Linked DNA regions of Homo sapiens. The protein of the gene in region 2 purifies or fractionates together with the protein of the main gene of each other region. This does not show direct contact. Each region holds a gene or a part of one and is shown on either strand. Other genes may lie near its edges.

Region 1 (3,074 bases), on a different chromosome or scaffold from region 2:
AAATGTTTAAAAAGAAAAGAATGTTATTTTGTAGCTGATGTTTGGCCTTAAAATTGTATCTGTGCTAGCTGGCTTATTGGTCAGTAAATAAGAAATGGTGTAATACGCTGAGAACTTAATGGAATTGTTAATATTGCTCACAGTGTCTCTCTTAATCTGTTTTCAGATTCTCACGGCTGTGTGAGCACAGGGAAATCAAAGCACTCTAGGCTACACTCCAGAGTAGCTTGTTCTCCAACTCGGATTTGATGGGGAACAAGAGAGTGTAGTCAGGCTCTGGGGTTAAAAAGACCTTGATTCAAGTCTCAGCTCTGCCCCTTTACTTTCAGAAGTCCTTTCACCTCCTGGAGCCTCCCTTCCTCCTTCAGTTTCCCCATCTCTAAAACGAGGGTGATGATAGTATTGGCTGCATAGCATTGTTCTAAGGCTCCTCTGTGGGAAAATCCCTTGGTACAGTGCCTGGCACATGGTAAGTCAGTCCCCAACTTTGGAAAAGGGTGATGAAGTGACAGTCTTTCCCCTTTTATTGCAGAGCCCTCATCCTGCAAGTCTCTCGGAAACACCTCCCTGAGTGGCCCCTCCATCCACTGCCCCTCTGCTGCAGTATGTATCGGCATCCTCCCAGGCCTGGGTGCCTACTCTGGGAGCAGCGACTCCGAGTCCAGCTCAGACAGCGAAGGCACCATCAATGCCACCGGAAAGATTGTCTCCTCCATCTTCCGAACCAACACCTTCCTCGAGGCCCCCTAGTTTCTCCGTCCCTACACAGGGAGCTCCTCCCCAAGGGTAGATCGGACCGTTCATGCTGCCTATAGGCATTATGTCCCTCAAAAAAAAACTCCTTTGCCTGCATCCTGTGTACAACATGACATTTTTAACCAATCCAATCTAAAAATGTGCCAGAATCCACCTGTGGCCCGAATCGTGTTTGGTTCCTCTTTCTACTCCACTGCAGATGACCAAACCTGTCCCGCTGCCACTTTCCTCACTGATATTGGGAGGAGGGCAAGGCCCAGCCGAAGTTCCACTAAAAATGCCCCAGGAGAATAGGCACCGGCTGGCTTGCCAAAGGGTTTGGGTTTTATTGCTTTCTGTTTTTTCTTTTCCCGACAGCACAAAGAAGTAAGGGCAGTTATTGGACAGGTGTTATTTAAACATTCTATTGTAAATGAATGTGTTGTTTGGTTCTACTGCATTGTGGAGCATGCGGGGGAAGAGAACTGACCCAGGTAGTGAAATGGAGCCCTTCCCTGGAACTAACCAGTCCTTGATGTTGTGTGACTAAGTAAAGATGATAAACCCCATCTGCTGGGGGTGTCACTTCACACTCGGCATGCATTGTGAAAGCTTTCCATACCCTTGGCCATTCCCTCTCTCCTCTCTCTCCAACCCCATTTATGCAGGAAGGGACTGCTAACAAGAACGCTTCCATCTCAAACCTTTTCTCTGCCTGGGAAATTATTTTATGTTTGTTTTTGAAATAAAGGATTTAGTTTAAGATTCTAAATTTTAGAGAAACAAACGTAGGCCTTGTTTACTAATAGCCAGACATCAGAACTGCAGGTAGGTATGTTAATGAGATGACTTATTTCTGGCAGCTCCTGGAATCCTAATATTGTAAATGAGTGGGACACACTTGCATATTGTGACCATTCTATTGAGGCCCTTCTCTGTTTAATGCATATTATACTTGTGCTTTTAACTGTGGAATCTATTTCTAACCTAAAGGTGCTGCCCTAGTACTTTTCTTTGCTGCCTCTGCTGCTCTTTTTCCTTTCCAAACAGCAACTCTGAGGCCATGAGCAGCCAAAAACTAGAGGTACTGCTCCACCTCGTCTCATAAAGGGAAACGGGCTCATCCCTTGGATTCTGGAGGAGGGAGAGGGAGATGGTGTGGAGGCCTCGAGGACAGAGATAGACATGAGCTTTGACAACAATCTGTAGGCTCTCCTGCTTTAGAATAAGCATGTACCATTCTTTATCCATTCCCCTTATTCCTACATCAATTGTTTTTACTTTCTTGGGTGTGAGACTGAGTGAGACACACACAAAATGTGTTGACACTGTGATGCCGGCAGGCAGAGCAGCTACTGACTTTGAACATGGGCAGAGAGGCCCCTGGATCTCATCCAGCCCACTCCTTTTCCCCTTCCAGTACAGTGACACTCTGGTGCCCATTGGCAGATGGCGACTTCCCTGCACCCATAACTGATGCTTTGTGAATTCTTCCTCCTTTTCAGAACTACTCTGTGCTAATTGTTCTGCCAGTATGGGCGCATCAGCTCCATCCTGACAAACAAGACATTTAGGTAAAACTTTGTAGGCACCTTCTGCTTCTCTGCTTCATTGTTCCTGTGATAGTCCTGTTGTTATTACAGCATGTACCCAAAACAGCCTCACATTGTTACAGGAGGCAGGCCAGGACATCAAAGTCATCATCTTTATGTGGCATGACTCTTAAGAGGCCATTACTGTATCTCATGGCCTCTTGATGTGGAAAGAAGTTGACAGAGGGTTGCAGGGTTTAAAAACATCCATTAACATGAAAGCTAATAAACCTGTCAGAGAACAAGATCTTGTTTTTCCTCTACTGAATATTGTGCTTCCACCTCTCCCCATGTCTCTCAGCTAGATTGTGTTGAGAAGGTTGAGTGAGACTCTTCAGACTGTGACTTACCTTCTGGTGTCTCAGGAGAGACTGAGAATCACTGGTGATCATTGCATCATATTCCATTGTCCCCATCAGCACAGAGCTCTGGAACTGAAACAGAGCTTCTGTAGCAACCACAGCTAACAAAGCAGCGTCTGATCTGACCAACAGAGGAAGCAGCCTTGGAAAGTATCTAGTGTAGACCTTGAAGTTCAAACCCAAAGGAGAATAGAATAAACAGGGCTGGAAGGAAACACTGCTTTAAACTGTAAAGTGTAGTACTCCTGCCTTAATAATTGGGATTTTATGGTAATTACGGGACAAAAACAAAGTTTGGCATGGGTTTCTTTAAGCTCGCTTACTTTGTTCTGAGTGGTAGGATTCTTACAATTCTCCAGCCATGTGAGGGAGAAAGCTAATAGGA
Region 2 (3,695 bases):
TGAGGAGGCAGAGCTTTAAGTTGAGATAGCCAATAGAGATGAAGGCACAGTAGATGGCGTGTCCTAAATCCAATCGAAATAGAGCTAGAGGTGAGCGGGGCAGGAATGCGGCAGGTTGGAGGCACCCTACCAATCAGACCAGGTCAGCAGCGGACAGGCGGGACGGCCGGCTAATGGGAAACAAGGACTGCGGAAGGCCAGGGTCGGGAGAAGAGGCAGGAGGCTGGCGCTATCTTTCAGGTAGCCAATCACTGTCCGCTAAGAACAGCGGGCGTGTCAGCAGCCCTTTTAGGGACTCTGAGGGTCTCGGAAGGGGCCTGTGAGGGGTCTTTCAAGGTTGAGGAGGCGGCATCGTCCAAAGAGGGAGAAGTATGGTCCCGAGAACCGGGCGAAGGAAGGCGGTTGTGAATTTGGGATCCTCACCTCGGGCCTTGCGCCGAGTCTCCTGGTCACCGAGGCTGGGTGGCTTCTCCATGGAGCTCAGGATGGAGCCCAGTAGGTCCGCCATCTTGGGAGTGACTGAGAGGGGGCGGTGCGTCTTAAAGGGAAGGGCGGAATGCCTTTAAGGCCGGAAACACGTCGGAGGCGGAAAACCCTGGGCCCGCCTGGCCTGGGCGCAGATCCCAGGCCCGCGGTGCATGGCGGCCTCCAGCTGGCCTAGGCCCCGCCCCGCCCCCGCAGACAGAGGCCGGAGGCTGGCTGGTGCAGCGATGTTTAATGGCAATTCGTATAAACCAAGCCCATGCACAAGTAGAAAGTGCCCGTGGAGCCGGCAGGAGGCCCCCGCCGCGCTAGAGAACCACAAGCCCGGCCGTGCAGCCCTCCCCGCGGCGCCTTAAATAGATTCTTCACTATACTCTGTATGTTACAGTATGTACAAGACCCCTCCCCTCGGGGGACGGGGCGGACTCCGCAACGCGTTCCTATGTACACCACCTCCCCTTCGGCCCTGAGGTCAGTGGCCAGAGTCGGGTGATGGGGTAAGACAGGGCCAGAGAGGGAGGAAACAGACGCAAACATGCGGAGTCGGGTGGGGACACGGTCAGCCCTGAAACACGAGGGGCGTGCGCAGCGAAGGCAGTGGTGGGAACCGAGGCGGATACATTCAGAGACGCGTCGAACAAATAAATAAGGCAAGTCAGGAGGGGGCCGAGTCGGGTGCAGGCAGGAGGAGCTGGGGAGCAGGGGCAGGCAGGGCTCCGGAGGTCACAGCGGAAGATGCAGGTATGTGGGGCGCGGGTTTTCTGGAGCCAGGACCAAAAGAGACGGGGCACGACCAGGAGGGACGAGGAGAGGGGTGTGGGAGCAAGGCGTGGGGAGGAGGGAGGAGGCCTACAGAGGGCTCCAACAAAGGTGAACAGGAAAGCTGCCGACAGGGGCTCCCCCTGCCCCAGAAAGCCCTCTCCCTGTTAAGACTGCACGAGGCGCCCCCAGGGTGGTGAGAAAGGCGGTGGCCAGGTCATGTGGCCAGTCCCGGCTGGGGAAGCCCTTCCAGCTCCTGGTTCTGCTTCAGTTCCCTCATCCTGCAGAGAGAAAGATAGGAGTCAGAGGAGACTGGCGGATCACGACGGGTGGCAACGCAAAAGCCCAGGGGGAGAAGGGATGAGTACCTGTGTCGGCAGCGCCGCAGGAATCTCATGATCTTCCGGGCTGCCTGGTCCTGCTTCTTGGTGAGAAAGGAGCCTCTGGTGAAAGAAACAAAAGATGGACCTCACAGAAGGCATCGCATGCCTTCGGCCCCCCCAGGAACCCTAGGCAGGGAATGGCAGTGAGGCATGATGATCAAGAGGATGAGTAAGGGGGAATGGCGTGGATGCAGTGGGTGGGCACAGAGGGCTGGGGCTGGGCCCTACTTGTTGCGGGCAGGCAGGGTGGCCGAAGTCCGGTGGGGAGGGCCGGGCCTGCGGCGGTAGGAGCGGTAGTGCTGCTGGATGAGCACAGCCGCTCGGCGGCTCTGCTGAAATCGCTTCTGTTCATAGTAGCTTCGGAACTTGCTCTGGATCAGGATGGCCGCCTGGGTCATCTTCTTATAGAGTGCAAACTGCAGGGGTGGGGAGGAGGGACAGGGGCTGAAATAGAGGGACGGAGACCCAAAGCCCTGAGGCTCACCCAAGTTAGGCTGATGCAAGACTCTCTGTAACCCACACACTCAAGGAAAGACTGAATCATCACAGACCTCACACTCAGAGCTCATGCCTAATACCTTAAGTGCAATCCAGGTCAGCTTGTGGAGAGAGAAGGGGAGTTAGGGCTCTGGCAACATTCTGGAATGGTTAGGCGTGGGTGTGGGTTGGTGGGTTGCTGGTTACACTTTTGAGGGAGAAGGGTCTCACCTGCTTGTACTTCCGGTAACAGCGCTGGATTACAGCTGCTGCTACCTCCTGCTGCTCCTTCAGCCGCCGGCCCTGAAGGGAGAGAAGTCTCACCACCTCATGACCCACATAATGGCATATCTGACTTGTCCCTTCAACTTTCCTGGGGTTCCCCTGACCCTTTACCCCATCCAAGGCCTGTCTGCACGACTACTCATCCTCCAAAAGCCCTGGGAGCCCAGTCTCCCCTGACTGGAGATTGTGTAATTCATCCTGAGACCCCTGCCCCTGACCTTGTACTTTCGGAAGGCCGTCTGGATGACTCGGGCAGCCTCATACAGTTCCCGCTGCTCGTGATCTGATAGTGTCAGCAGGGCAAAATCACTTTCCATCTTGCCACTGGTGGATGCAGAGAGAAACTCTGCCCAGGAGGGTGCTGAAGGGACAGCCAGGCGACCTCGCTCAAAGGGCAGTTCGCTGTAGGCGGTAGGGAAAGAGGGTGTCATGAAGCATCTGAAGTCCCTCCTCTGCCACCTATGGATGGCTACGAAGGAAAACCACCAGCAACTGAGTCTGGAGAGTGACTTCAGAGTTCATCAGCCAGTTCAGTTCGCTTCTCCAAGGCCCTGGGGCCTCAGCCAGAATGGAGCTTTGGCTGTGGGAAAGCCAGCTTTCTCCCTTCCTCCCATCTTCCTTTGAAGAATCTGGAGGCTTTGTCCTGAGCTAGTCACCTGGGAGGGGTTGAGCTGGGGAAATGGTCCACATTCTCCAGGTAGCTGGCCAGCCAGGACATGGTCTCACTGAGCCCCACAGCCCCTGTCCGCTCCCGCATTGAGGCTCCAGCCTCGGGCAGCCCCACGAAGTCCTCTCGTTTAATCCGCTCCGGTGTGGCTTCGATGATCTGCTTGGCTAGTGAGATCATGTCCACCTGGAAGAAGGGAGAAGCTGAGTGAGTCCTTAGGGGCCCCAGCTGCCAGCTGTAACCTCAGTCCATTCCTATCTTGTTCCTTCTCTCCCTGCCAGGTGCTGCTAACCCTGTCTTTCTGGGCCACTGTTCCAGACTCATTCATTTATACTGATGGGGCTCCCACTTGGGGGTCCCTCTGTGCTGAGATGCTATGGAGAATATAGGATAAAAAGGAGATACTCCAAGTGGGGATTCAAAGCTGAACAAATGGAGGACTTGACACCCTTTCAGGCCAACCATCCACTGTCCTACCTGGGCCTGCCCCATGCCAGCTGACCAGCACATGCTCCCCATAGGCTTGGCTGTGCCCACCCCCAGCTCCCTTTCAACTCTCCAAGAACCATTCCAACACTTGCCAACTACTACCCGGATGAATGGCTCCAGTCTGGCCTTTGCTCCAGCCCTGAAGCCTATAC

What was found.
Region 1: the proteins of CAMTA2 (region 2) and PSME3IP1 purify together in Homo sapiens (affinity purification with mass spectrometry; 3 studies listed by BioGRID and IntAct, with this or other methods). This does not show direct contact.

What each region holds. Positions count from the first base shown.
Region 1 is NC_000016.10:57,151,966-57,155,039, reverse strand, and holds the end of PSME3IP1 (PSME3-interacting protein), read left to right. Parts: intron 1-532; coding exon 533-750; 3' UTR 751-2,574; downstream 2,575-3,074. UniProt on the Homo sapiens protein: Promotes the association of the proteasome activator complex subunit PSME3 with the 20S proteasome and regulates its activity.
Region 2 is NC_000017.11:4,967,297-4,970,991, forward strand, and holds the end of CAMTA2 (calmodulin-binding transcription activator 2), read right to left. Parts: intron 3,241-3,695; coding exon 3,044-3,240; intron 2,855-3,043; exon of another isoform or gene 2,790-2,854; coding exon 2,606-2,789; intron 2,476-2,605; exon of another isoform or gene 2,406-2,475; coding exon 2,334-2,405; intron 2,225-2,333; coding exon 2,204-2,224; intron 2,042-2,203; coding exon 1,854-2,041; intron 1,686-1,853; coding exon 1,611-1,685; intron 1,524-1,610; coding exon 1,460-1,523; coding exon of another isoform or gene 1,410-1,459; 3' UTR 701-1,409; downstream 1-700. Other genes in the region: SPAG7 (sperm-associated antigen 7), read right to left, coding at 424-508. UniProt on the Homo sapiens protein: Transcription activator. May act as tumor suppressor.